Regions from separate parts of the Homo sapiens genome. Here all the other regions are reported to be linked to region 1. The links are microRNA targets in miRTarBase. Many come from high-throughput screens and were not tested one by one. Region 1 holds a microRNA gene; each other region holds the end of a gene's coding sequence.

The links. Region 1 holds the annotated microRNA hsa-miR-661 (UGCCUGGGUCUCUGGCCUGCGCGU, at 2,908-2,931, opposite strand). A microRNA usually pairs through its seed, bases 2 to 8, with sites in the 3' UTR of a target mRNA and lowers its output. Matches are read on the target gene's strand: a 7mer-m8 pairs with bases 2 to 8, a 7mer-A1 pairs with bases 2 to 7 and ends in A, and an 8mer does both.
Region 2: the mRNA of RHPN2 is a reported target of hsa-miR-661. Seed matches in the 3' UTR shown: 7mer-m8 at 2,104-2,110.
Region 3: miRTarBase lists ALDH1B1 as a target of hsa-miR-661. Seed matches in the 3' UTR shown: 7mer-m8 at 4,185-4,191.
Region 4: miRTarBase lists ZNF292 as a target of hsa-miR-661. Seed matches in the 3' UTR shown: 7mer-A1 at 1,764-1,770 and 7mer-m8 at 1,514-1,520.
Region 5: miRTarBase lists RTCB as a target of hsa-miR-661. The part of its 3' UTR that is shown has no 7-base or 8-base seed match.

Annotation. Positions count from the first base shown.
Region 1 is chr8:143,942,299-143,948,317 of GRCh38, forward strand. MIR661 (microRNA 661) reads right to left here and starts at 2,981; the gene lies at 2,893-2,981. LOC124902040 (a long non-coding RNA gene) reads left to right here and starts at 1,566. Exons shown (of 2, transcript XR_007061144.1): 1 at 1,566-1,872; 2 at 3,268-5,489. It also overlaps a transcript of PLEC not described here. RefSeq lists silencers at 83-542, 1,613-1,882 and enhancers at 763-1,012, 4,411-5,198, 5,199-5,986.
Region 2 is chr19:32,977,017-32,983,035 of GRCh38, forward strand. RHPN2 (rhophilin Rho GTPase binding protein 2) reads right to left here. Exons shown (of 15, transcript NM_033103.5): 15 at 1,576-3,240. The coding sequence ends at 2,980. FAAP24 (FA core complex associated protein 24) reads left to right here. Exons shown (of 5, transcript NM_152266.5): 5 at 1-1,213. Among named protein-coding and RNA genes, the nearest start is that of FAAP24, 7.8 kb to the left of the region's middle.
Region 3 is chr9:38,396,759-38,402,545 of GRCh38, reverse strand. It overlaps ALDH1B1 (aldehyde dehydrogenase 1 family member B1), which reads right to left. Exons shown (of 2, transcript NM_000692.5): 2 at 3,885-5,787. The coding sequence ends at 5,244. Among named protein-coding and RNA genes, the nearest start is that of ALDH1B1, 7.0 kb to the right of the region's middle.
Region 4 is chr6:87,260,654-87,266,672 of GRCh38, reverse strand. ZNF292 (zinc finger protein 292) reads right to left here. Exons shown (of 8, transcript NM_015021.3): 8 at 730-6,019. The coding sequence ends at 4,872. Among named protein-coding and RNA genes, the nearest start is that of SMIM8, 59 kb to the left of the region's middle.
Region 5 is chr22:32,383,004-32,388,424 of GRCh38, reverse strand. RTCB (RNA 2',3'-cyclic phosphate and 5'-OH ligase) reads left to right here. Exons shown (of 12, transcript NM_014306.5): 12 at 326-843. The coding sequence ends at 433. It overlaps LOC339666 (a long non-coding RNA gene), which reads right to left. Exons shown (of 3, transcript NR_038918.1): 3 at 4,082-5,169. It also overlaps the pseudogene RGL4P1. Among named protein-coding and RNA genes, the nearest start is that of RFPL3S, 14 kb to the right of the region's middle.

The DNA of each region.
Region 1 (6,019 bases):
AGCCCAGGCGGCGGTTCCCAGCAGAGACCCAGCCCCACTAGGTGAGAGCGATGGTGGCCCCTTCTGTGCCACCGGCCACGCCACTGCACCCACCTACGCAGCACAGCTGCTGGTAGAGGTAGCCCCTGCGGGCCGGCTCGCAGCCCCCGTCCAGCCAGCACGGCCGCTCCAGCAAGACCTCCCTCGGCGAGGCAAAGGCGCCCCCCGCCCCCGACATGCCGGCCACGGCCGGAGCCCTGGTTCGGCCCACGGACAGTGCGGGGAGCTGGACCGCGGCGGCGCCTCTGCTTCCAGCCCACGCTGCGAGGCTGCCGGCTTCGCTCTCCACCTCTTCCACCTCCCCCCCACAATCCGCCCACTGCGGGAGCGAGGCCCAGACCCAAAGAACCTGCCCCTGGCGCGCAGCCCCGCCCAGCGCAGCCAGGAAGCCGCGCCCCAACCCACGGGCCGGGCTGGGAGGCTGCCCTGGGACTGAAGCGGCATGGGAGGGGGCCTCCCAGCAGGATGTGCGGTGGGGACTGCAGGGCCCAGGGAGGAAGGCAGGGCATGGGGCCAGGTGGTGGGCAGACAACGCTGGAGGCAGAACCGAGGAGCTGAGCCGCGTCTGGCACCACCAGGGAGTAGAGGCATCCTGTGAGCCAGGACCGTGGCCGAAGGGGGCAATTGTGGGCTGAGGTGGGGAGGCAGGGACAGTGTCTGGTCCCCAGCCAAAAACATGGATGGGGAAGAAGCCCTCAGCCCAAGTCCCATCCTGGCAGCTGAGTCCCCGGCAGCTCCGGGCGTCCCCAGCGCCACGCCTAGAAGCCCCATCTTGACTCATCTCAAGTCCGGGGATCCAGCAGAGGAGCTGAGCCAGGCAGCGCCCTCACTGCAGGAGAGGTCTGGCCAGCCAGGTCCCCGATAGGCAGTCCCTCTGGCCAGAAGCCCATAATTGAGGCTGCCCAATCCCCAGGGCCCCGCCCCATCCTGTGCTGGGCACGGTTGCCACCTGGGACCACAGCCCAGGAGCTGGTGACTTTGAGCAGGGAGGGCAGGGCACAGCCTGGCTGCCCCCGCCCCCTGTGCGGCCCGAGGGCATGAGGGCACCTGCCTCACCTGCGTGTGGCTCCACCCCCTGCTGTGTGTGCAGGGAGCCACCTCCACCTCAGTGCTGGCCGGACAGGCACCTGCCCACTTGTCCCTGCCACGGCGGCTGCCACAGGCCTCCCTTCGTGTGGGGGACGCTCCTGCCCTGCCGGCCTCCGCTTCCACCCACCTGTCCCGCACAGGCTGCAGGCTGAGGGCCACTGCAGAGCCCGCCCCGCCCTGGGACTGCAGCAGGGTCAGGGTCTACACTGCAGGGTGGGGTGGAGGGGCAACACTGCTTTCACTGACATTCAGCTTGGAAACAGGAAGGGGAGGGCGCAGGGAATGAAGGGGCGGGAGGCAGGCGGCCCCTCTGCCCCGCCTCGAGTCCCTGGCAGCCACCAGCGGGGCTTACCTTGCTCGTCCTGCGCCCACCGACGTCCCCTGCGCCAGTGCCACACAGCGGCCAGGGTGACAACGTGACCCACAACCACCAGGGAGGGAAACAGGCTGCCCGAGGGCTCCATAGCCGCCACGCGGAGCCGCCAGGGCTGCCCTTCCTGCGCTGGGAACCGGCTGCTCCAGGCTAGACAGCCCCCTCCCTGCGTGCAGGGCGAGCGAGGGGGAGCGCCGGGACCGGAGCCTGCCCTGCCCGCAGGACCGCCCCATACGCGGCGGCAGCCCCACAACAGCTCCCGCCCGCCTCCTCTCCTCCTCCCTCCGCGGGTCCGGCCCTCGGCGCCTCCCCACCCTCGCTCCCCACCCGGCCGGCTCAGCTGTCCCTGCGCAGGGCTACTGACGCTCAAGGTTAGTTGGCCTTAACCCCTGCGTCCCCGCGGCCACACCCGCCGGGAGGAGGGGCCAGCCGCACGCCTGGCCAAGCCGCAGCCCCCCAGCACTGCCCGCGGCCTCGGCACACACCCTCCCTCCCTCCCAGCCTCCCCCTGCTGTCCCCACCAGAAGAGGGGCCCGAGCAGCCCACTCTGCCTCCAAGGCTGCCCTCTGGGGACAGCTGGCAGGCATGGAGGGATGCCAGAGCCCCCACCTCAAGCCTGCAGCTGAACCCACTGCACTCCTTCAACTTCGCCCTCCTCACCAGCCCCAACACCCCAAAAGTGAGACTGCAGACCAGGGCTGAGGGGGTCTGGGTGAGGGCACATGAGGCAGGCTGTGTGCAGGGCGAGGGACAGCGCCCCTGGCCTCCAGCCTCAGCCCCAGCCCTCTGGCCCCTGTCCCCAGCAAGGGGCCAGGATTTCACAAGGCTTTCAAGGGCTGCCCACCTACCGGGCACGATCTTCATCGGGGACGGTGGCAGGAGCCCACGGGGCAGACGGAGCGGGCCAGGGGTGTGGGAGGTCACAGGCCCCTCGGAGGAGGCACAAGCCACTGGCGGCAGCGTCGGGTGGGAGGAGGGCACGGCCGTGCTGCTGTCAGCAGCAGCTTGTGGGGGAGGGGAGCAGTGGGCAGGGGCCCAGGGGATATAAATATCCGAGGAGGGCGCGCAAGGACCGTCACCACCCAGACTTGGAACATGACGCACGGCGCCAGGGCACCCAGGCCCCGCTGCAGTCAGGTCTGGCTGGACGGTGCCACCCGACACCTCGGTCCCCCAGCTCCCACAGGGGGTTCTAATATAATAGAGCAGGGCGCGGGAGGTGCGGGCTCACGTCCCTGCAGGAGGCGGTGCAGTCCCCACCCACCTGCCCTGCCAAGCCAGGGGGTGCTCTTGGAAAGGCCACAGGGGCCAAGAGAAGAGGCCGCCCATTCTCCCAGAGGGCCCTGCGCAGGTCACTCAACACAGCACCTGGCCCCACCGGTGGCCGGGACAGCCACCCCAAAGTCACGCGCAGGCCAGAGACCCAGGCAGCCCGAAACCAGGGCTCAGGCCTGCGCCTGCCCCACAGCACAGCCTCTCCTGGGGTCCCAGGGATCTGGGATGGAGACGCCTCTCCTGGGCCACGGCAGGAGACTGGCCTGGCTCCACCCAGGAGTCCCGAAGCCCTGCTCTGTGGAAGGCCTGGGTCAGAGAGCCGGGCCACAGGCAGGCCCACAGCATATCCTATGCAGATCAGATCCCAATGCAGCCGGGGAAACAGGACGTGGGACACGCACAGTCCTGCTCCTCTTCCTGGGACCCCTGTCTGCTGGGCGCACCCCTCAGGCCCAGGAGAATGCACGTTGACGGTATACCCCATTCCACAGCGTCGCTCCTGGCACCACATGGAACCCTCAGCAAACCCCATGAAGTCCTATACCATGAAGGCCTCATACAGACCAGGAGCCTGAGGCGCCGCCTGCTGTCCCGCACGCTGCCATCTGAGCCCAGGTGGCCTCCAGTGTAGTTACCTCAGCCCACAGCAAGGCACAGTGAACCAGCCTGGCCCCGGGCCACTGGGCAGGCCACCCAGGTCCATGCTGGGAAGCCCGCGGACAACAAGAGGGCCGGGCCCACCCCAGCCTCCTGCTCTCCAGCCCCACACCTCAAAAACGTGCGGCCGAGGGAAATGCCTGCAGTGGCCCACTCTGGGCGGCCAGGGGTCGGGCGGGCCCAGGCAGCCCTGAGGGTCAGGGATACCCAGGCATGCCAGAAAGGGCCCAACTCCCAGCTGAGCCCAGGACAGCATCTGGCCAGCAGTGGGCAGGGGCCGACAGGCCGGACGTTTCAGCCCACTCCCTGCCACGTGCTGGGGAAGCCTCAGAGGAGCCTGACTCAATGGCCTGGGTGAGAACCAGCTCCTGGCGGGAGGAGTGCCCCAGGCTGGCAGCGGGCAGTTCTTCTACCACTCCACGGAGGTCCGGACAGGCCTGTGCTTCCGGGACACACATCACACACACCCCTGGGGCAGCTCCGAGAGGGGGCTGTGCCTATCCCTGCATCCCAGGTCTGACGGCACAGAACGGTGGACAACGGGAAGAGACAGGTCTGCCAGAGGCGGCCCCGGCCCTCTCCTCTGCCTCCCACAGCCCCCAGCTCTGCCTGCCCTACCTTGGCCCAGCTGAATCAGCTCCTCCATGCTGTACCTGTCCATGGCTGCCACACAGGCCAGGCTGCTCCGAGAGCCGGCAGGGAGGAAGGCGAGGCAGGAAGGAGGGAAGGGGTGGGAGGCAGAGGGAGGGCCCACTCATGCCCTGGTAGCAGCGGCTCCTCCTCGCAGCCACCCCTTAGTCAGTAAGCAGAGATGAAGCCCAGCCGACTGACGGGTCAGACCAGCCCAGCAGACCTGCCTGGGGGTGCAGGGGACTGGCCTGCCTGCAATCCCAGAGAGCCCTCCGGCCCCAGCCCACGGGTCTTCCCTACTGTTCCTGCCCCGCCCAGCAGACCCCCCGCCCAGCAGACCCCACCCTGTAGCCTCCCCTTCCCGCTGCAGGCCCCACCAGCCCAGCCCTGCCCTCCCACCCTCCCACCCACATTCCAGGCATCCATGTGCCCAGCGGTATTTCAGGAGCCAGGCGGGAGCAGAGCCCCAAACTGCCCACCACACCCCACTCCTTGAGACTCACATTCCTCAGCCCCAAAGGTGGTCTCTTCCTCCACCTGAGTCCTCCCCAACCAGCACAGCCCCAGGCATCTGTCCAGGGGCAATGGTGACACCTGCCTCCCCTCTCCATACCTCTCCACCCAGGTGCTTGCTGACCAGTGAAGTGCAAATCAAATCCCATCGTAACTACCCCTTAGAAGCCTGCCGGCGATCTACAGAAATCCCGCAAACGGGTGACTCGGCCAAGCCAGTGATCCCTGTGGAAAGCTGGCCGGGCCATAGTCCCTCCACCTAGAGCACCCTGTGGCTGGGAAGAAGGGCAAGGCAGCCAGGCCACCTCCAGGCTTCCTCCTTGACGCAGGGCCACAGAGGGTCAAGGGGGGAGGTCAAGGCACAGGCGTGTCCTCCGTGTAGAGGGGAAGTCATGGTGGCTACCCAACCCCTGCCCTTTGCTGTGGGAAGCAGCTCTAGGTGCTGTGCGTGTACAGCGCTCACCGTGGTGGCGGCTACCTGGCCCCTGCCCGTTGCTGGTGCATGGACAGCGCTCAGCTGGCGTCTCCTCCACACAATCCTCGGTTCCTTCAGAATTTTGAGCCAGGCAAAGCATCGCCATTTGCAATGTAAATTAGGGCTGGGCGGTAGCTATAATCCCAGCACTTTGGGAGGCTGAGGCAGGCGGATCACCTGAGGTCAGGACTTCAAGACCAGCCTGGCCAACATGGCGAAACCCCGTCTCTACTAAAAAAAAAAAACAAAAATTAGCCAGGCATGGTGGCTCATGCCTGTAATCCCAGCTACTCAGGAGGCTGAGACAGGAGAATCGCTTCAACCCGGGAGGCGGAGGTTGCAGTGAGCCAAGACTGTGCTATTGCACTCCAGCCTGGGCAACAGAGCGGGACTCCATCTCAAAACAATAAGTAAAATAAAAATGAAACGTAAATGAAACTCACATATAAAAACACATTCCTACAGCTTCCCACCACACCAAGCAACTGAAACTCTGCCACAGGCCCAGGGCCTTCCCATGGGTCCTCTCCCTCTGGCCTTCCGGCCTCCCTCTGTCCCTCTCTCTGGGCTGCTCCTGGCAGGGTAGGCACCTCCTCAGAGCCCTCCCTGATTGCTTCTGAAGCCACCTTCCCATCACGCTCTCCTCACCCAGTTCACCCCACATATCTGGAGCCCCCTGGGGCAGGGGCTCCATCTGGGTCTGGCCCTGGCCTGTGCATGGCTAAACAAGCAGGTGGACGGATGGCTTCCCACACAGATGTGTTGCTGGCAGGCCCCCATGGGCCCCACCCAGGGACAAGCAGACCACCAGGGCACAGGGAGGGCAGGGGCCTCACTGCAGGGGTACAGCTGGTGCTCCCTAGCCAGGGCTGGGTGGAGAGGGGCAGCCCATCCAACAGGGCCATCCTGGACCAGCACAGTTGGCCCACGAGCTCTGACCTTGCCCTTCTGCCAACCCACGGAGCGGC
Region 2 (6,019 bases), not on the chromosome of region 1:
GGCACCAGAGCGAGACTCCGTCTCAAAGAAAACAACAAAAAAAAAAAAAAAAGAAAAAGGATTTTCTCCAGCAGCAACCAGTGAAAGATGAGGCGAGGCTTGAATGGAGCCCGTGGGTCGTCCTGCCTTAGCGTCTGAGTTCAGCTTGTGAAGTTAGTGGGCCGCAGAGGGCACTGCCTTCATTCTGCTAAGACGAAAAGGGCTGGTGGGATCTTCGCAAGAGAGTCAGGGACTCACACTCAGCAAAAAGCATTAGGGCCGATTTTAATGTGCGACCTTGACCTGCATCTGTCATGGAAAGTGCCTTCTAAAAAGCTTCAGTGGTGGATGTGACCATCTGAAGGAAACAAATGTACAAGGAAGCACTGTGTATCCTAAGCCCTGGGTTCCCAGAGTTTCACCTGCTGTTCATCAGGTCTGGCCTTCATATACCCGTACTGCGAGGGCTGTTTCCAATGTAAATAAATAACTGCGCAACAGTTCCTTCCTCCTTTCCTTTGTTCCTCCCTCCCCCCGGCCTTTTTTTTTGGCAGATGTACAGTTTGTTTATAATCACTGCATATGTCTTCTGCACACAGAAAGTATGAAGTCTGAAGTTCCCACTTAAAGTTGAAAACTCAACGGCCGGGCATAGTGGCTCACACCTGTAATCCCAGCACTTTGGGAGGCCAAGGGGGGTGAATCACAAGGTCAGGAGATCCAGACCATCCTGGCCGACATGGTGAAGCCCTGTCTCTACTAAAAATACAAAAATTAGCTGGGTGTGGTGGCACACACCTGTAATCCCAACTACTCAGGAGACTGAGGCACGAGAATCGCTTGAACCCAGGAGGTGGAGGTTGCAATGGGCCGAGATTGCACCACTGCACTCCAGCCTGGATGACAGAGTGAGACTCCATCTCAAAAAAAAAAAAAAAAAATTTAAAGTTGAAAACTCAACATGCATGAGGCAGAACAGGCTGTGTTTGTATATGAAAGGCCCAACAATGGAAGGATACAAGAAAATGATGGCAGCAGCTGCATCTAGTGAGGGAAGCAGGGGCTGGGGATCAAAAGGTACAAATTGCCCATTCAAAAAATAGACACAGGCCAGGCACAGTGGCTCACACCTGTAGTCCCAGCACTTTGGGAGGCTGAGGTGGGAGGATTGCTTGAGTCCAGGATTTCGAGATCAGCCTGGGCAACATGGCAAGACCCCATCTCTACAAAAAAATCAAAAAAATTAGCCAGGCATGGTGGCTCATGCCTGTAGTCCCAGCTACTCAGGAGGGTGAGGTGGGAGGATTGCTTGAGCCCGGAAGGTTGAGGCTGCCATGAGCCACAATTGCGCCACTGTCCTCCTGCCTGGGTGACAAAGCGAGACCCTGTCTTGAAAAAAAGACAAAAACAAAAAATAAGCACAAAGATACCATCTGTCTTAGAAAATACTAAGATAACTTGACAGCTTTTTAAGTTCTGCTTTGTGAAATGTTAGTAACTAAAAAAATCAGAACATTAGAAACTGTGTGCATTGGGGAGAAACAATTTGAAAGAGGAGGGAATGAAAATGAAATAAAAGTAAAAAGAAATATTAACTCGGGTAAATGAATATGTTTATTTAAATATGTATACAAGCATGGCCCTAGGAGCAGCAGATACACTTTCCCAAAGGTGGTTGCTTCCTTTAAGATATTGCACAATAGAAAATAAACTCTTGTCAATCCTTAAAATTAGTCTTCAATGCTATGTATTTTAGCTATGTAACTTGTACTGTGTCAACAGTGAACCTTATTAGATTCACGGTGTCATCGAACTTATAGCAAGATAAAAATCAATCAGTAGGAATGTCATTTTAAAAAGTAAAATAGTGGGACGGTTGTGGTGGCTCATGCCTGTAATCCCAGCACTTTGGGAGGCTGAGGTGGGTGGATCATTTGAGGTCAGGATTTCGAAACCCGCCTGGCCAACATGGTGAAACCTCACCTCAACTAAAAATACAAAAATCAGCCAGGCATGCTGGAGGGCACCTTGTAGTCCCAGCTATTTGGGAGGCTGAGGTAGGAGAATCGCTTGATCCCAGGGGGCGGAGGTTGCACTGAGCTGAGATCACACCACTGCACTCCAGCCTGGGCAACACAGCAAGACGCTATCTCAAACAAAAAAAGGAAGTCAAATAGAGCTTTAAACCTGAATCATTTACATCTTTACTTTATAAAATGTAAAACTACTTTTTTACCCAAGACTTAAAATATAGAATTATGTAACTTCTACTTTAAACAAAATGAAAAATGTTTTGAGTATCAAACAGTATATTATCTACCTTGTAGACAGCATCTTCATCTAACACTGCCACTGTGTTAGTAATTCTTAAATGACATCAAACTAGAAGAAAAGCTGCTCCTACATTGTTTTTATTTAATAAGACAAATTTGGCACTAGACTTTTTCTAGAAATAGCATTCATAGTCTATCGATATAATAGTAACATCTTGTTTTAGGTTAATGAATTCCTATTAGGAAGCAGCACTTTGGGACAGTTTTTAGTGACACTAATTTAATTCTATCATTACAGTCCTCTGACCTGCCTTAATTCCAGGATCATCTGAATTCTAGGTTAAGGAATGATTATTAGCCAAACCTGGAAACAACTACAAATTGTACTGATATAGGTAACCCCAATTTAATAGTGACTAAAAGTCATAATTGTCACCATTAAAAATAGCCATATTTCATATCTTCAACACTATTCTATTTACAATACTTTATATAATAAATAACTTACAGCAGTATAGTAACACACCTCAAAAAAGTTCTTTTTTCACTAATTCCTAGAGGTTTCTTGGTTACTTTCCTTCATAAAAACACATCAAATGTGAGTTTACACTATGAGAAAAACAGGATTTGAGAACAGATAGATAGATATTTTCCATTATGGCACAAACGTTTAAGGCCGAGTCAGCACCGGAAATGTTCAGGGCCTGAACATGTTTGTTTCCTCACATTAGTACCAAGAACTGTCTGAGTTGAGAAGGCTGAAAGGGGAGGGCAGCTTCTTCTTGACCTGAGGCCGTGCAGCCCCGACCGATGGGAGGCACAAGGTGCTGGCTGACTTCTGTCTGTTCTTGTTGGTGCCCCAACTCAGGAAGGAAAGCTTCTTGGAGATTTTCTTGGTTTTATCAGTTTTGTCGTCATCATCAATGGCTAAGCAGATCATGGAGTACGTTTTCTGCATTCCCACGGAGTATGTGGCACTCTTATTATGCTGCACATAGAAAAGTAAGAAAAAGGGCGTCAGGCATCATCAAGATAGATGATAAAAACTACGAAGTTTGGCCAGGCGCGGTGGCTCACACCTGTAATCCCAACAGTTTGGGAGGCCGAGGAAGGCGGATCACTTGAGGTCAGGAGTTCAAGACCAGCCTGGCCAACATGGTGAAACCCCATCTCTACTAAAATACAAAAATTAACCAGGTGTGGTGGTGGATGTCTGTAGTCCCAGCTGCTTGGAGCCTGGGCACAAGAATCACTTGAACCCAGGAGGTGGAGGTTGCAGTGAGCTGAGATCACACCACTGCACTCCAACCTGGGTGACAGAGCAGGATTCTGTCTCCAAAAAATAAATTGAACAGACATAATTCGGAAACTCAGGTGACCAATGCTTATATAGAATTAGGTTCTTAAAACAAGGACAAACTTTTTTTCTTTTTTGAGACAGGGTCTTGCTATGTTGCCCAGGCTGGTCTTAAACTCCTGGGCTCAAGCGATCTTCCTGCCTTGGCCTCCTGAGTAGCTGGGGCTCTAGGTGTGCACCACCAGGTCCAACAAGGATAATTTTTTGTTTGTTTTTTGTTTTTGTTTTTTAAGACAGAGTCTCACTCTGTCGCCCAGGCTGGAGTGTAGTGGTACGATCTCGGCTCACTGTAAGCTCCGCCTCCCGGGTTCACGCCATTCTCCTGCCTCAGCCTCTCTGAGTAGCTGGGACTACAGACACCCGCCACCACACCTGGCTAATTTTTTGTATTTTTAGTAGAGACGGGGTTTCACCCCTTCTCGATCTCCTGACCTCGTGATCCGCCCGTCTTGGCCTCCCAAAGTGCTGGAATTATAAGCGTGAGCCACCACGCCCGGCCCAACAAGGATAATTTTTAAGGAATGTACTCAATAGTAACAATTTAAGCTTAGGAGCCACAACTCATATTTTAAGGTTCTTCTTCTATTTGAGAAAGTAATAATACTCATGGTCACGAATATGAAAGTACAGGGTGGGGCGCGGTGGCTCACAACTACAGTCCCAGCTACCTGGGAGGCTTAGAGGGGAAGATTGCTTGAGCCCAGGAGGTTGAGGCTATAGTGAGCTGTGATTGTGCCACTGCACTCCAGCCTGGGCGACAGAGTGAGACCTCTGTCTCAAAATAAAAAAAAAGGGGGGGGGCGGGGGGAAGGGAAGAGGGGAAAGGAAGGGAAGAGGGGAAGGAAAGGGAAGAGGAGAAGGGAATGGAAGAGGGCAAGGGAAGGGAAAAAAAAAAAAAGAGTATGCAGTGAGCAATAGGTCTCCCTGTCACCTGGGCTTCTAAGGCCCTCCATGTTATACTTCTAGAGATGATGTACAAGTATTTCTATATGTACCTAAGTATATTACCATTCATTTTCTTAAAAGGAATATACTACACTATTCTACACCTGATTTTCTTTTTTTCTTTTTTTTCTTTTTCCTTTTTTTTTTTTTTTTTAAGATGGAGTCTCGCTCTGTCGCCCAGGCTGGAGTGCCATTTTTATCATTTTCAAGTGTAGAGTTCGGTGGCATTAATTACATTCACATCATTATGCTCCACTGCCACCATCCATCTCTAAAACTTTTTCATCTTCCTCAGCTGAAACTTTGTACCATTAAACACTCTCTACTATTAACTTTCCAAGAATCATGTAGGATTCAAACTGGAAATCTAAGGAAGCTTGCTTTCTGAAGACTTCCACATGGGCTATCACCGGCTTCTAAGGTTTGCCTAACATTGAGATTGTTTAGTTCGCCACATGTTTATTGATGGTCTACTATGTTCTGGCACTAAAATTAGGCATACAATATATCGCTGCAATAGTTGAGGACATTGTTCCTAATATAAACCCTAAGAGGGGCCGGGCACAGTGTCTTACACCTGTAATCCCAACATTTTGGGAGGCTGAGTTGGGCAGATCACTTGAGGCCAGGAGTTCAAGACCATCGTGGCCAACATGGTGAAACCCCATCTCTACTAAAAATACAAAAATCAGCCAGGTGTGGTGGTGCACACCTGTAATCCCAGCTACTCAGGAGCTGAGGCAGAAGAATCACTTGAACCCAGGAGGCGGAGGTTGCAGTGAGCCCAGATCACGCCACTGCACTCCAGCCTGGGCGATGGAGTGAGACGCTATTGCAAAAAATAAATAAATAATAAATAAATAAATAAAATAAACCCTCAGAGGAATCTGAGTTATGCAGCAATAAAGTAGGGGGTACTTCGAGCCCCTAAGGATGGAGATGCCTCTTCCTTTTCTGGAAAACTGACCGCTAACTCCACCATGTTTTACGGAGCACACACAATGTCATTTAAAACAATAATAAAACGAATAATCCTGGAGACAGATGTGAGGCCTGAAAGCATTTCCCAACCCTCAGCTGCTCAAAGTCCATTGTGTATCAAAACCACTGCCTTATAAATACCCTCAGTTCTCTTCCATCTGCCCCCACTCGCTCATCTCCACCCTCTGCCTCCCCTAGGGCCTGTATCTGAAAGGTTGTGCGTTGCTGGAGGACACTCACCAAGGCTTCCCTTGGAATTCTAACCTGACCCCAAACCTCTAATAGGCACCCATTTCCTGGCACTTCTGTGTGTCCCTAGTAATTTCATTTCCTTTTCTCCTGTATACTTGTTTCTTATCTTCGCTCTCCTCCTGAAGCCACTCACGCACCCTCCTGACATCCCTGCCGTATACTTCATGGCATCCGTCCCCCAAGACCAAGCCCTTCTGTGTGCCTGGATCCCATTCCCTCTCTCCTCCAGGCA
Region 3 (5,787 bases), not on the chromosome of region 1:
GTTCTCTATAATACCCTTCACCTCCTGACAGACTAACGATTTCACCTGTTTTGCATATGGTCTGCCTCTTCTATCAGAAAGGATGTTCAGGATTTTATTTTTTTTTTAGTTTCCTGCTGTATCCTCTGCCCCTAGAATAGTTCCTAGCACATAGACAACATTCCATAAAATGTGTTAAACAAAGGAATACATAAGTAAGAGTCCCACCGTGTCCCTAAACGTGCAACCTCCAGGGTGGTTGCAGTGGCTGGCACTACCCCCCACGTGGTTACTGCAGCCAGAAACATGAGGTTACCCAACTTTCTCTCCTCTCTTGTGCCAAGTTGTCCATCTGTCATCATGCCCTGAAGCCTGCCTTCTGGCTGTCCAGACTCTGCCCCCACCCCACACCCTGGTGTGCCAGCATCACTTTGGGCGCAAGCAACAATGTCCTGAGAGGTGCTGACTCCAGGTCAACTCCCTCAATCTATCCTCCACATTGAAGCAGAGCCAGCTTCAGAAACCGAATGTGATCCTATCACTTTCCTTTAAAAGCCCTCGGGGGCAGCCAGACATGGTGGCTCACACCTGTAATCTCAGCACTTTGGGTGGCTGAGGCAGGAGGATTGCTTGAGGCCAGGAGTTCAAGACCAGCCTGGGCTACACAGCGAGATGTCCCCCATCTCTACAAAATGTTAAAAAAGTTAACCCAGCATGATGGCACACACCTGTAGTCCCAGTTACTTGGGAGGCTCAGGTGGGAGGATCGCTTGAGCCCAGGAGTTTGAAGCTGTAGTGAGCTATGATCAAGCAACTGTGCTCCAGCCTGTGTGGCAGAGGGAGACCCTGTTTAAAAAACAAAAGCAAAACCAAAAAGCACCCTCCCATTGCTAGACCAAGTGTGAGCTTTCTGAAAGGATGCACGAGCCCCTTCACAGTCCAGCCCCTGCCTGCCCCCTGCCCCCATGCTTTTCCTCCCTGCCTCTTTCCTCCTCATGGAAAAACTTGCCCTTCCTCCAACCCTCCATATTTCTCAGACTCCAGGAGCATCCTTCCCTTATCCCTCTGGTCCCCTGCTAGTCATTTAGCAGGACCCCATGCCCACTCCCACTGGGCCTGTGCCTGAACTGAGCTGGGAGCCCTGGGAGGCAGCGGTGTCTGGCAGAATCAGAGGACCTGAGCTTGAGCCTGTCTCCACTCACTGCTGAACACCTCCCAGGCTTGATGTCTATCAAGTGCAGAAGAATAATACTGAGGGCCCTGATGGCAGTTAGAAAGTGAAACCCTGTCTCTACTAAAACTACAAAAATTAGCCGGACGTGGTGGTGTCTGCTTGTAATCCCAGCTACTCAGGAGGCACCCAGGAGGCAGAGGTTGCAGTGAGCCAAGATTGCGCCACTGCACTCCAGCCTGGTAGACAGAGCGAGACTCCATCACGAAATTAAAAAAAAGAAAGAAGCATGAAGGGAGGTGGCCCACCGTGTGTGCTTGATACAGAGGCTTGCTTTCCGCTCATGATCTCACGGCCTCTGTGCTTCTCACTGCACTGTCCACCCGGCTCTGTAATTGTCTCCCCTGCCCAACTGTGAGCTCCTGCAGGGAAGGGACTGTCTTACTCAATTCTCTTTCCCCCAACAATAGGCCTAGAGCAGGACCATCGCCCCCCACCCAACCCCTTTGTTTTTTCTTAAACCAAAGAGTTACTTGTGTGAATTAATGAATCAGGTGGCCACCAGAGGTCAGCCTCACACCCAGAATGGAGCCAACCCAAATGAAAGTTCCTAAATGGCCCCGGGTCTGAGGAGAACCGGTGGGACTGAGCAGCAGCTCTGATGCATCCAGCACAGTGGCTGGCTTGGGTGTGTAGGGCTTGCTGGGCTTTGCCGTGGGTTCTCCAGGCTTGGAGGGTTGGTTCCATGTGCTTGCCAGTATGCGCCGCTCTCTGGTCCCTCGTGCATGCTCATGGGGAACTGATTCCAGAAGAGTTCCCTATTAAACCTCTCCACTTCCTTTCCCTCACCTGAAAAAAGTGGGGTGGTAACTCCATTACTCCACTACCTGCTTTATAGGATGGTTGTGAGGCTTCCATAGCATGGCAAGGTGCCTGGCATAGTGTTTATGGAGTAAGATCTTGGTGAGAGTTTGCTAAGTGGATGGAAGCCCCAGAATTGCAACATCTCCCAAGTGTGAGTCTGGTGGGCAGTGTCTGGCCTGAATGAGGACACCCAGTTAAACCTCCCTGCTCACAAGTCTGTGCATTCAGCACAGTGGTAAAATGAGTGGAGGGGACTGGGCTTGCTGGCTCACGCCTGTAATCCCAGCACTTTGGGAGGCCAAGGTGGGCAGATCATTTGAACTCAGGACTTCAAGACCAGCCTGGGCTATGAGGCAAAACCCTGTCTCTCCAAAAAATACACAAATCAGCCAGGCATCATGACATATGCCTGTAGTCCCAGCTACTCAGGAGGCTGAGGTGTGAGGATTGCTTGAGCCCAAGAGGTGGAGGCTGCAGTGCGCCATGATCGTGCCACTGCACCCACCCTGGACAACAGAATGAGACCCTATCTCAATGAATGAATGAATGAATGAATAAATAAATAAATAAATAAATTTTTAAAAGAATTTAAAAATGGGTGGAGGAGCCGTGATGGCTGAGTTTATTAACAATCTGACCTACAGGCTCCTCACTCTCAGAATTTCAGGGCTCAAAACAAGGGACCATGAAGATTGTCTTTTCCAATCCCATTCCATACTGGAACACTGTCTACAGAGCTCGTCTTTGGTTAAGGAGTATTGAAACTTAAATAAGGAATGGAGTTGTTAAAATATTGTGATGTTGCACATTAATCATTAGAGACACCCAGCCGCCCATTTCCATGTCCCAGTGCGTTTATGAGAAACTTTCGCTGCTGTGCAACAGAGGTGCCAACAGCCTCCCAGAGAAATCCGTAGAAGGTGCACTATGGGGGAGTGTCAGGGTCACCTTAGCTGTAGACAAATGGTGTAGAAAGGAGGTCCTAGGAAGGGAGGTGAGGGAACCAAACAGACTCTGAACCCTCAAGCAGCAGTTTCCAGCCAAACCCAAGTTATGATAATAAACAAAATCATCATGTTGCCTAGGTAAGACAATAGGATGTTTAAGAGTTGACTGGGGCCAGGCATGGTGGCTCATGCCTGTAATTCCAGCACTTTGGGAGGCCGTGGCAGGAGGGTTGCTTGAGACCAGGAGTTTGAGACAAGCCTGGGAAACATGGTGAAACCTCATCTCTACAAAAAATACCAAAAAAAAAAAAAAAATTAGCCAGGCATGGTGGTGAGTGCCTGTAGTCCCAGCTACTTGGGAGGCTCAGGTGGGAGGATTGCTTGAGCCTGGGAAGCAGAGATGAGTGGGGTGTGCATTTACAGGAATGGGGGGACTTGAACGTAAGGTGGCTTGTAAGCAGCATGGTCTAGAAAGATGGACCGAGAGAGGGAGGCTCAGCATTCTGCTTCTGTATTGTGGCCTGGCTGGCTTGGATTTGCCTTCACTCCCATCAGTTGGGGAATGAATGTAGCAAGACTAACAATAAACATTATGAACTCTGAGGTTTGAAACTCTGGAAATCCCCAGCATGTCAAGGTGGCCCCCATGCTAGGCTTGGCTTGAAGGGTGGGTATGGTTTGGAAGGGGTGGGGGGCTGTGGAAACGAGTCCAACAAGATGGGCCCATTCTGAGCAGGAACCAGAGTTTTTCTCTACGGGTCTTACAGTTGCACTTTGTCACCCATCCAAGAGAAAACAAAAACAGAAACATTGGGGAGGGGACTTTTGCACCTGACTGGGGGTTGACTAGACCACCTGGGTCCCTTCCATCCCCCACACTCTATAAAATGTTCAGCAGCAGGACAATATGGAGACAAAATGGATTTGCTCACAGAATGTATACGTTTATTTTTTAACGGAGTTAATTCATGGCCGGGTGTTGTGGCTCCCACCTGTAATCCCAGCACTTTGGGAGGCTGAGGCGGGTGGATCACCTGAGGTCAGGAGTTCAAGATCAGCCTGGCCAAAATGGTGAAACCTCATCTCTACTAAAAATACAAAAATTAGCCAGGTGTGATGGCATGTACCTATAATCCCAGCTACTCAGGAGGCTGAGACAGGAGAATCGCTTGAATCTGGGAGGCGGAGGTTGCAGTGAGACGAGATCACACCACTGCACTCCAGCCTGGGCGACAGAGTGAGACTCCGTGTCAAAAAAAAAAAAAAAAAAGAAAAAAAGAAAGAAATTAATTCATATACCATAATTAAACAATTCCATAGTTTTTAGTATTTTTACCAAATCATGCAACCATTACTATTGTTCAACTCCAGAACATTTTCAAAACCTCCCAAAAACAAATCCCATGCCCACTAACAATTACTCCTCTATCCCCTGGCAACCACTAATCTATGTTCCATCTCCATGGATTTGCCTAGTATGTATATTTCATATAAATGGAATCATACAGTCTGTAGCCTTGTACATCTCTCTGGCTTGTTTCACTGAGAAGGATGTTTTCAGGGTTCACTGATGTCACAGCATGTGTCAGTACTTCATTCCTTTTTATGGCTGAGTAATCCAAGGAATATTCCATGGAAACATTTTATTAATCCACTCATCAGTTGACGGACATTTGGGATGTTTGGGCTTACTTTACAGGTGTAATCATGTAAGCATATTCTTTGCCTACTCCTTCCCACAAATTAAGGAAAATCAGTAGCAAAATGAAGGGCAAGCAACTAAAACAGCCAGCAACTGGCACACAGACAAGGAAAAGCACCTCTGGTTTTTAGGTTAAGCCAATGAAGAGTGGGGCCGAGATTTAGTATCCACCTAGTTCAAAACCCCTAACACTTTCCAAGCTTGTGTTCTGAGTTGAGTCGATCCACTAAACCATCAAGCGCACCCATGGGAAAGTCCTTGGATCAGCAGGAAGAGCTACAAATTACAGATCACTGGTTTTTAATCTGTCCTCCAGAGACTCCTAAGATTTCATGGAAGCAACTCATGGGCCACCAAGGGGGCTGTGGTTGGGGGTTAGATAGGTAGAACTCTGAGCCTGGTCCCCATCTCTGATTTAAATAGAACAGCCTTGATTGAATTGCTTTATTTGTGGGGTTTCTTCTAAGAGTTAATTTGGAACAAAGAAAGGGTGTTCTTGGCTTTAAAACAGCTTGGCAAGCATTCGTCAAGGTGGTTGTGGAATTGCTGGACTGTGACTGGGCCTCCCTGACAGCTGCTCTTACGAGTTCTTCTGAGGAACCTTGATGGTGACCGTCTTTACCTCTGTGTAGGCCTTAAGCCCATCCTCACCCAGCTCCCTCCCGTTTCCAGATTCCTTAAACCCTCCAAATGGCGTGTGGCAGGTGACGATGTTGTAGGTGTTTACCCACACGGTCCCGGCCTGGAGTGCCTGGGTGAAGTACATGGCCTTGTCCAGATCCCGGGTGAACACAGCCGCAGCCAGGCCATACCTGGTGTTGTTGGCCCTCTCAACCACCTCCTCAATCTTCTTGAACTTGAACAGGGGCTGCACAGGCCCAAAGATCTCCTCTTTGGCAATTCTCATGTCATCCTGCACGCCACCAAAGACAGTAGGCTTGATGAAGAAACCACGCTCCCCGAAACGCTCTCCGCCACAGAGGAGTTTTGCGCCCTCCTTCTGGCCAAGCTGGATGTAGCCTAGGACTCGTTCAAACTGCTCCTTGTCCACCTGAGGCCCCTGCTGGGTGTCCAGCTCAAAGGGGTTCCCCACTTTCCTCTGCTTTGCTTTCTCCACGGTTCTC
Region 4 (6,019 bases), not on the chromosome of region 1:
ATGTATGTCATTTAAGCTTGAGAAAGCAAGTTACCAGAAAACTATAGAAAAACTGCCAGGTAGTGTTGAGTCTACTTAAGTTTTGGGATTACCAACCTATCTCCTGGAATAATTTTCTTCCATTCCACTGCTGAAGAGTAGACAGACGGTTTGAGGATTTTTCAGGATCATGACAGAGGGAGAGGTGTATGGTCTGAGGATATTTGCAAAGGAGTGCGTTTAACAATGGGATCTAGCTAGTTTCTAGGCTGAACAAGCTGAGGACAGGAGTAAGCTGATGAATAGTCAGCAAGTGGTAGTAATAAGGTAGAAGTATTCTTTTAGCAGAGATATCTTGAGCAGGTGAGCTACAAGTTTGTGGCCAGAAAAATAAATTGAATTCAAGATTTGGAAGTGATATGGGGTTTGATTGTGGCAAAGTCATTGAAGAACACAGGTATTATTATCATTTTCTTCATTGACTGGTAGTGTTGGAAGATATAGATTAAAGTAAGTATTTTTTAAAAAACTGTTGTAAAGAATGGGCATGTGAAACTTTATGATCTGGGTGTCTTTCCGATGAGGTGACATTTAAGCTGTGAACTGACGGGATATGGAGTCACCCATAGAAATAAGAGAAATAAGCATTCCAGATAGGCTTTGAAGTGGGGAAGGAAGGTTACTATGCGTTCAATGAAATGAGAAGAGTGGGAAATGGGAAGTAGGATAAGAATGTTTAAAGGCAGGGGCTTCTGGCAAGTATGACTGGATTTTAATCAACGTTTAATCACAATTACTTGAAATTCAATGAGCATTACTTGAATACCGGGTAATATTCAAAACATTAACAACCAATACAGCAAAGGAATCAACCCATTGGGATATATAAATTGATCAATCAGAATAATCACCATTTGCAAACAGCTGATACAATTGAATTGGTGTACACGTTGATTATCAGTCCTGGTTGAATAAATGCCATTTGAGATCAGCATTTCCCAAAGTGTGTTCTTTAGAATGCTAGTTCAGTGGGATATAACTAAGTATTAACATTAAAAGAAGAAAAATGTTCTCAGGGTCAATTAAGTCTGGAAAATTCCCTTTCAACTTTTTACATATTTACAGTAGAACTTTTGTCTTTAATATGCAAACATGCATTAAATTATTTAAGAGAGGCTGGGTGTGGTGGCTCATGCTTGTAATACCTGCACTTTGGGAGGTGGAGGTGGGTGATCACCTGAGGTCAGGAGTTCAAGACCAGCCTGGCCAACATGGTGAAACCGTCTCTACTAAAAATATAAAATCAGCCAGGTGTGGTGGTGTGCACCTACTTGGGTGGCTGAGGTAGGAGAATCACTTGAACCTGGGAGATGGAAGTTGCACTGAGCTGAGATTGTGCCAAAACTACAAAATTAGCTGGGTGTGATAGCATGCATCTGTAGTCCCAGCTACTGGGGAGGCTGAGGCAGGAGAATCACTTGAACTTGGGAGGCAGAAGTTGCAGTAAGCCGAGATCGTGCAACACTGCACTCCAGCCTGGGCAACAGAGCGAGACTCTGTCTCCAAAAAAAACAAAGAAAAAAAAAGAGAGAGAGAGAGAGAGAACTACAGCACACAATTTAGAAAACTTATTTCATCACAGCAATAACCTTCCACCTGCCTAGTATCTCACTACAATAAACATGCTGAAACAGGCTGCCTTAGACATTACTTTTTATTATCTCTCTTATCCATTAGTCTCTTCCCCAACTTCGTTAGCCTTTCTTCTGGCTCCCATCATTTTTTGCCTGGACTATTTTAGGTCCCCCTAATTAATCTCCAACTTACTCAATTTATCCACTATACCATGACAATTATCTTTCTAAAACTGATACTGATTAAATTGTTCAATATACATGCATCCAATAACAATTTTCAAAAACCAAAATAAAGACTTAATACAGCATACAAGAACACTCCTGATCCCACCACCCATCTGCTTCTTCAGCTTCACCTTCTTCAACTTCCTATCTTTCCAAGTGGCCCACTGGCAATACCGCAATTACGCTCTACCCCCAAGTCTGGAATTCCCTTGTCCCCCTGAACCAATGAGCATTCATTCATCTTTCAAAACTCATATTTTCTACAAAGACTTTCCCAACTACCTACCTCCTTTTCCAGAAAAATAGGGCATTCTTTCTGATGTCCCTAGGTATAGTATTATTGTACTTTCATATTATCTACAGCAACTGTGACTGCTCACTTGATAAAAATTTGCCTTAAAAATATGTCTAGCCCTTTAAAATAATAATGTACCTATGTTAAATTTAACACCGTTGAAAATTTCAAAAACTGTTACATTTCACTTAAGGTGATGTATTTTGAATAATACAATTCTGACCTGTAATATGCAAACTTTGCGGGTTCAGAAGAGGAAAAACTCCTACTTTTTAGTGATGAAACTTTAGCAAATTTAGGCTGTAGAAGATATCTCAAGACAATAGGCTGGGGAAAAGTATACCATGAAAAAAATATATTTTATGATTTTTTAATACTTAGACATTACATTCCGTATCAAAATTTACCAACATGCTATTCTATAAATTCATGTCTTTTTACCATAGTTTGATTTTTTTTGTTTCATGCTAAAAAGCCCACTCTCATAATTACCTTTAGTATACATTACCTGGAATATAAAAATTTCATTAAATGTTGGCAAACTCTTCCCCATGACATGTAAAACAATTAGAAATGTCTAGTTATAAATTTTCTTAAGCTAATGAGCAAAAGAAAAGCCCCAATACATTGGCATTTTCACTTAACAGTGGCTCATAGTTACAATGATCAGAAATAAACCTACTTGCTACTGTGCTATATAGGGCAGTTTTGCCAAGTGCCCACCTTTAAGAGCTAGGTCAATTTCTAAGAAAACTGTATGGAAACATTCAGTTGTTAACAAAAATTTAATATTAAAATTACTCAGTTATTTAAATTATTGTTAATTTAGGAAAAAGAAAACCCATGTATTAATCACCCATAAAATAACTTTTATTTTAATAAATAACAGTGGGCTCACCAAAGGGCAGGGATTTTAACGTGTCAGGTTTTATGCTTATTGGTAGTAAGTCTTAAACAGGTGAAATGAACTATTCAATAAAACCCAAAAGGCCCTAAAAATAAAATACTTTAATAATAAAAATTAAAAAGAAATTTCCAAAAGAAAATAGTTCACTCCTTGACCATGCTTATTTATTCAGAGTACCAGCGATTTCAGTAAGTGCTTCATTTTTCCTGCAAATCTGATGTTGCACAGGGAATGTACACATTTTCATACCATCACAATATCATCAATATCTCAGGCCAATAATATTGTGAATGCAACTGTTTTATAACAAACACAAAATAAAAAAAAACAATGTTACTATTTACGGCAAACAGAAACAAAAGTAAATATTGCAAAGATGTTTTCTTATGTTTCTACTACTGATTTTAGTTGGACTTTAAATGAAGGTCATCAACTCTCCTGGAATAACCTCTACCTCTCGCTGTGAATCCACAGTATAAATATGGTGAATAAAGCTAAACTGTAAGAGCTAACTATATACTGAATAACCAAAATAATTATAACTAATACTGTTCTTGAAGACCAATCTAATGAAAAAAGTATCATTAGATATGGTGAGAAATACAGACAAATCTGTACAATCTAACATCTATAAACAGTAAAATCAAAACATCCAACTTCCTTATAGAAAGTGTTTTATCTATGTAATTATAAATGTTAAGGACTCTTGTATTTTATAAACACAAGATGGGCTCACTTTGATGATATCAATTTTAAGATTTATAAAAATGTTTAAAAAAATCTTTCCACAAAACTTTATACAGTTTAAAGCTATACACCAATCTATAAATCTCAGAAAATGGAAAACAAAACAAAACAAAAAATCTTTATAAGATCACATGTATAAAACAAGAAATGAAATGTGATTTTATTTAAGGCAATACTGGGCTACTTCACAAATCACCACCTCAAATATTTACACTGCTCCACACTACTAGTTTTCTATCACATTCACAAAGGATTTTTTTTTAATACCAAATGTTTAAAATCTTCAATGTAGTAAATTCTTTATTCACATTTCCATTGTATTTCATGGACTCATAGTAACTATATCCAATTAGAAGCAATGAAAAAAAAAAACTGTAGCTATAGGAAACTGCTAGAGAATCTGCTTTAATTTCACATGAATACCACCCCAAAATCCTGGATGGCAAATTTACAAAGCAGAGCAAAGTGTTGATATAATGTGCCTATTTTGTGAAAAGTAATCTTGATATCATCTTGTAAATAAATGTTTCATGTAAAAATCAATGAACTATGGCAGAGTTTCTGGTTTTAGTTCAAAAAGTTCTTAATTTAAAACAATAAAAGAACAATTTAAAAAACTTGATCGCTTAGTTAAAAATTAAAATTCCAAATATAAATGTGTCATTTAATAGTTTAGACTTACAGACTGCTGGTGGCAGCACATGATTTACAATAATAAATATATACAAAAAAGGTATCTACAAATAAAGAGTACTGTTATACATGAGCAGTGACCTGGTGAAACATACCAATCACACAGATAATTGTTTAGTTCATGAAAAGGGCAACTGGGTGATAGAAATTTGAGGTTTAGCTCACTATTTACAATAACTGAAGTACTGATTCTGTTCCTCAAGTCCCATAGGGATAAAAAAAAGTTTTACATGACAAATGTCATGTTTTTTTTTTCTTTTTTGTTTTTGGCCAGGTTAATTCATGTCAACAACAAAAAAATATAATGAAAGTTTCACAATTCTAGCATGCTTGATGGCTTCCTATTTAAAATAAAATGGTAAATGATGTATTTATACTACATTAATTATCAGTACTGACCTCTGCCTGTGGCTTTACCTATACTGATATCTTTCATAACAGACATATCTGGATCATTTGAATGTACTTCAAGTTTTTTCAGACTGACGGTAGGTTTCATTTCCTGAAGTTGCTTTAAGACAAGCTCAGTGCAATCTTTAAGATTCTTGTCTAAAACAATTTTTACATTATCACTGCACTGAAGCTGTGATGGATTGGCAAACTGTACAAACGTTTCGCTTTCTTTACAAGGACATACATGATTTCCACTAGTCACAGCAGTCTTATCAATATTTTTTCTTGAATTTGAATGGGATCCTTTTTTGTTTCCAGTATTCGGATGGTCTTTGTCAGTATTTTTCTTCTGCTTCACTGCAGACTCCTCAAGAAACTTCAGAAATGATACTTCAAATCCCATTGGCTTAAAAGAGCTCCAGTCAAAAGATGCAGGATGCTCCTCAATGGTTTGAATGGCAACAGCAGTTTCTTCTTCTTTACGCACGCTACTTAACTCAGCTGCTGATGCTGGTTCAGCTTTTTCAACTTTCCTTTTTTTATTTTGTGAGACATTTTTTTCCTTATTAACTCTCTTCAAATTACTTGCTTTTTGTCTTTCTGACTGGCAGAGGTTATCTTCCTGAAAATCATTACTTACATTTGAAGAAGTATTAGCTTGGGTCTCTACACTTGTGCTATCTTCATTTATTAATTTTGTAATAAACAATTCTGTTAGTTCATCCATTTCATCTTTTTCATTTTTTTCAACTTCCTTTTGTGAAACTGTAGCTGTTGTTCTTGAATTATCATTGCTCTCTGATACACACGTGTCAGAATCTTTCACATCATTCTTAGCACCTTCTTGCTCAGACGTTTCCTTTACTTGTGAGTTGCAACACCGTTTGAATACAATAAGAAGATTTCGGTGTTGTGATGTAAATGCCTTAGATAATTTATGGCACTTATAATGTCTAATTATATTGCTTTCACTTGTAACAACTGAAGTACATCCCTTTATCATACATGGATACTGGGTTACAAATCTGCTTGTACACTCAGACAGGGCATCATTTCTAGCCTTTATAGAATATACATGCTTCCCACGTTTCAGAGAATAAGGCTTATTTTCTTCAATCTGCACAATCTTTGCATTCTTGTTTT
Region 5 (5,421 bases), not on the chromosome of region 1:
ATGGTTGGGTGCCGTTTCTTCCAATCAGGTTCTGGTGTGTGTTTTATTTACTTACATTTACTACATTTCCTAGTTATACAAGTAATACATGTTCTTTAAAGACATTTTGAAAAATACAGAAAAAAAAAAAGGTGAAAGTGTTTTGGAAATCAGCACTGACCAACATCAGGCTTACTTCTTTTTTAAATTTTTGCTAATTTCATAGGCAAAAAAAAACTCTCTGTATTATTTTAGTGTGCATTTATTTCATCACAAGTGAAGTTTGGTGCTTGTAAAGACTGTGTTTTCAGTGGACTTGTACAATGTTTAAATTCCTCTCCTGCAGGCTCCTGAGTCCTATAAGAATGTGACAGATGTGGTAAATACCTGCCATGATGCTGGAATCAGCAAGAAAGCCATTAAACTGAGACCAATTGCTGTGATCAAAGGATAGAACCTTGGACAGCAGGGCTGCCTGACACCACCAACCCTCTCTGAAGTGGAAGTGGACTGACATGCTCTTCTGACATCAGACTCAAGGCGGGACAAGTTGCAAAGTGTGCAGCTGTAACTGCTCACGCCAAAATGGCTGATGGGGAGGCTGCTGCTTTCAGGGGCCCGTGCTTGTAAAATAACCTTCCAGGAAGAGGCACATTGCCCACCTTTGGAAAGGGAGGAATATGCCTTCTCCTTGGTTGTTCCACAGAGTTTTAGGAAAATCTGTTAGGGATGGGTAGATGTCAAACTGCCTTACGCAGTCATACTGATCTTTAGCCATCAGATTGATCTTCTTCACACCAAGCTCTGTTTACATTCCGAGAGGTGTCATGAAGAAAGTTCTGTTCAATAAGGTTTTGGAATGTTTCCTTTCGTCTGTTGCTTTGTCAGTTTGTCCATTCATCCACCCATTTAGGCATCACCCCTGCACTCAGCAAAACCCTAAATACCCCTCTTACTTGGAGAGCACCCAGGGAGTTGTAATCAGGCTGTTAGATGAATGGATAGTGGAACACATTGAAGAGGGAGTATGGGGAGGTTTAAGGAATAGCGGCCCAAAAGACAAAGTCTTCATAGCTTTACTACCTTTCTTATTCTAAATACACGGCAGAGTTTTTGTATCCATGGGGCCGGGTGAACAAAATGGAGGTAGGTGGTGGTGCTGGTGATGGAGGGCACAGCAGAACCAGAGGCCTGGCCTCCCTCCTACACATGCCTTGCAGGGCTTTTTTTTTTTTTTTTTTTTTTGAGACTGAGTCTCGCTCTGTCACCCAGGCTGAAGTACAGTGGCGGAATCTCGGCTCACTGCAAGCTCCGCCTCCCAGGTTCACGCCATTCTCCTGCCTCAGCCTCCCGAGTAGCTGGGACTACAGGCGCCCGCTACCATGCCCAGCTAATTTTTTGTATTTTCAGTAGAGATGGGGTTTCACCGTGTTAGCCAGGATGGTCTTGATCTCCTGACCTCGTGATTCGCCCGCCTCAGCCTCCCAAAGTGCTGGGATTACAGGCGTGAGCCACCGCGCCTGGCCCTTGCGGGGCTTTTTATTGTGGTTCTGGGCCCCTGGCTTGTTGCTTCCTGTGTAGAGGACAGCCCCACTCCAGCCCCAGCCATCTGTGCTGTCTTGATAGGGGCAGACCTGGCCATGCAGCAGGGCTATACAGACCCTTGCGGGCCCCGGCTTCCTACTGACATTCTCTTCCCAAAGGCCCTGGCACACAGTGCTGAGCACCTGGGCACTCACAACTGCAGCTCCAGGCAGATGTGTGAGCAGGTTGCCCATCAAAACTCCAGCTCTGGGCCACTTGGTGCTTGGGTTGGGAGAGGCAGATGTGGCATGGAGGACAGGCAGAGATAGGAAACCCCTGTGCTGGGAATGGTTCTCTTGGGGGTCGGCCCTGGCCATAGCCTCCCCTATATTTTACTGGGGACCTAAGGTGCCATCTACAACTCTCCTTTCCTTTTGTAGGGAAAGTCCCTAGATCTCAACTTTCTCATGGGAATCATAAGAGAGATGAGACCCAGGGTTTTTTCAGTCTCTTCCCAGCTACAGTCCACATATTTCCTCCACGTATGTTTGGAAGTCAAAAGACCCTTCAGAACCCTAAATCCACCCAGTTTATACTTGTTCCTGGGCTATGTCATCCTAGTCCCAGAACCTGGGAAGATGCCACCATACCTAGAGGAGGCCATGAGGCTGTCACATCTAACATTCTGTGGATATGACCTGCTTATGCGCTCTACTGGAAGTATCTGACACTTCAAGTAGAATTGAGGCCCAGGCATTGTCATCTGCTTTCTTTACTAAATTATGCCAAGCCACTGGAAAAGTGACTGCATAAATTACATTTTTCATATATATCTGTTGAATGAATGAACCTCAACCAGAACCTCTACAGATACCTGAGTGAGCCTGGGGCCCCTCCTTCAGGACCCAAGGGACCACTGTTCTTTCTCTGTCAAGGACAAAGACCAGTTAGAAAGAATCACAGACATCCTTTACAAATGCAAAAACAGATTTGCTTTCTGTGTGCTTTTCCAAACAGGGATATGGGCCATTGAGACAGCATGCCCAGAGCTCCATTGAAGGGAAAGATAATAAATGTGAACTATAGCATGCTCAGCAGCCTTTTCACAGAGCCAGGCACTTGGGACCTGCTTGCCATGCCTTAGGCCATTTAGTTCCCATAAGAACCCTATGAGGTTCATCTCACTGCTTTACAAAGGAGCAAACAGGCTCAGAGGGCTTCGGTGACATCCTCAAGACACAGCTAGTCGGAGACAGTCACCACTGTGAGTTGGAGGGGATGGACATTCACCTGGTAAACAGTTCCTCCATGAAGTCTGGCACGGTGATAAAGTCCCAGGAGGGGCCCAAACAGGTGGCATAGGAGGAGATGGTTCTACCCAGAAAGGCTGGAACCAGGGCCTTCACCAGTTTCTCCCCTGTACCTATCTGGAATGTTCGCACCCTGTAAGTCTCCTCATTTTCATACTGGGGTGACAAGGAGAGACCTGTCATTGACAACACCATGAACCACCAGAGGATTGGGATCTGGAGCTCACACAAGGAATCCCCAACCCTTTGGAGACTTGTGGATGTGGAGGACATGGGTTCCCATGGTGGAAAAGGTTCTAGACTTTAAAATTTGACATAAGAGTGGAGAATAGGGCGTGGTGGCTCACGCCTGTAATCCCAGCACTTTGGGAGGCTGAGGCGGGCGGATCACGAGATCAGGAATTTGAGGCCAGCGTGGCCAATATGGTGAAACCCTGTCTCTACTAAAAAAAAAAAAAAAATTAGCTGGGCTTGGCGGCATGTGCCTGTAGTCCCAGCTACTCGAGAGGCTGAAGCAGAAGAATCACATGAACCCGGGAGTTGGAGGTTGCAGTGAGCCAAGATTGCACCACTGGACTCCAGCCTGGGTGAAAAAACAAGACTCAAAAAAAAAAAAAAGTGGAGAATAATGAAAAACATTAGTGCCTTCAAGGCATCCTCACGGTGTTTGTCAGCTGTGAAGCAGTGGCACCTGCTGTATTAGTAGCCTACAAGAGCATCATCCCAGTGAGTCCTCAAAAATCATCCTCATGGTAGAGATGAGGAGACGCGGGCTTTTGGATGTCAAATGGCAGTGCAGCAGCACCTGGGTCAGAGCTGAGCACCTTCCTGGCCGGGCGTGGTGGCTCACGCCTATAATCCCAGCACTTTGGGAGGCCGAGGTGGGCGGATCACAAGGTCAGGAGATCGACACCATCCTGGCTAACACGGTGAAACCGTGTCTACTAAAAATACAGAAAATTAGCCAGGCATGGTGGCGGGCGCCTGTAGTCCCAGCTACTTGGGAGGCTGAGGCAGGAGAATGGTGTGGACCCAGGAGGCGGAGCTTGCAGTGAGCCGAGGTCACGCCACTGCACTCCAGCCTGGATGACAGAGCGAGACTCTGTCTCAAAAAAAAAAAAAAAAAAAAGAACTCAGCACCTTCCAGAGGGAGGGCTACATGAAATCCCCTCTAGGCCACCTGAAGCTCCACTTCTGATATGGAGGGAAAGGGCCTGGGGAGGCCTCGTCCCCTCCTCATTTTAGAGACAGTGCACAGGACAAGATGCTTTAGAAGAATGCTTTAACTTAAAGGAATATAATTGGATTTCATCCTTTAACATCAAAGGGAGTCTGGAGAAACAGCTAAGGCCATTTCAGCCCTTGGCAGGGGGAAAATGCCGGAAGACTCCAGGGTGGGAGAAAGCCCATCACAAGGCCCAGGATCTGAGAGGAGACTCACTTCTTCCAGGTCCAATCCCCTATGCTCCTTCCGTCCATAAGACCTACTCAAAGGCCCCACTGGGCTTCTGACCACTCACCAACCCCCTATTCTTACCTGTTCCTACCAACTTCTTACCTGTTCCAAATTATGCAAAAAAAGTGCCCCCTCGTCACCCTGGGAAGACCTGGAGGCAACTAAGGCCCTAGGTTTGAGGAGACAGTGCTGGGCCAAACCTCCTTGATCTTACCAGTTCTGTGACCCTAGAGAAGTTTTCTGGTGTTTTGGGGCCTCCCCAGCCCTGCAACATGCACAATGGGGTTTTGCTAGCATCTCCTTCCTGGTGAACTCATCAGGTGTCTTTGAGATAAATCTTATAAAACTCATTGTTTGGTGTCCCCTGTAGATACTGCACACGCTTAGAGATGGAAGAATTTCAAGAAGAAGTGAGGGGTGAGAGGTAGCATGGAATACAACTCCAATGGGCTTGGGGTCCACAGTGTGATCTCGAGAAAGGCATTTTTGCTCTGGGCCTCGTTTTCCATGCGCACCAGTAGAGGCTGAGATTATATGAAATTCAGCCCTCATCGTCCTCTGACATTGCACTTTCCAGTGCCTTCTGATTCTATTTAGAACCAGACCCTGTGCCTCATCTCAGCCTATGGTGGGCAGCGTCCGCAAGGATCACAGCACTGAGGGGTTAGTGACGCCTTTCTGAATAGAATACAACCCAGATGATGGGATAGCACTTCTATGCTAGTTCAGGCTGTTAGAGCAAAGAGCCATAGCCTGGGGAGCTCATCCCCAGGGCAGACAGAATTGTATTTCTCCCAGTTCTGGAGGCTGGAAGTCGGATATCAGGGTGCCAGCCTGGTTGGGCCCTGGTGAGGACTGTCTTCTGTGTGGCAGACTGCAGACTTCAGGTTGTGTCTTCGCCTGGCAGAGAGAGGGAGAAGAGAGCTCTCTGGGGTTCCTTTTAATAAGCCAGCAATCCCATTCATGCGGGCTCCACCCTCAGGACCTCATTACCTCCCACCTCCTGATACCATGAGATTGAGGGTTAGAATTTCAACATGTAAACATACGATCAGGCATGGTGGCTAAAGCCTAGAATCTCAGCACTTTGGGAGGTCAAGGTGAGAGGATTGCCTGAGCCCAGGAGTTTGAGAGCAACATGGGCAAAATAGG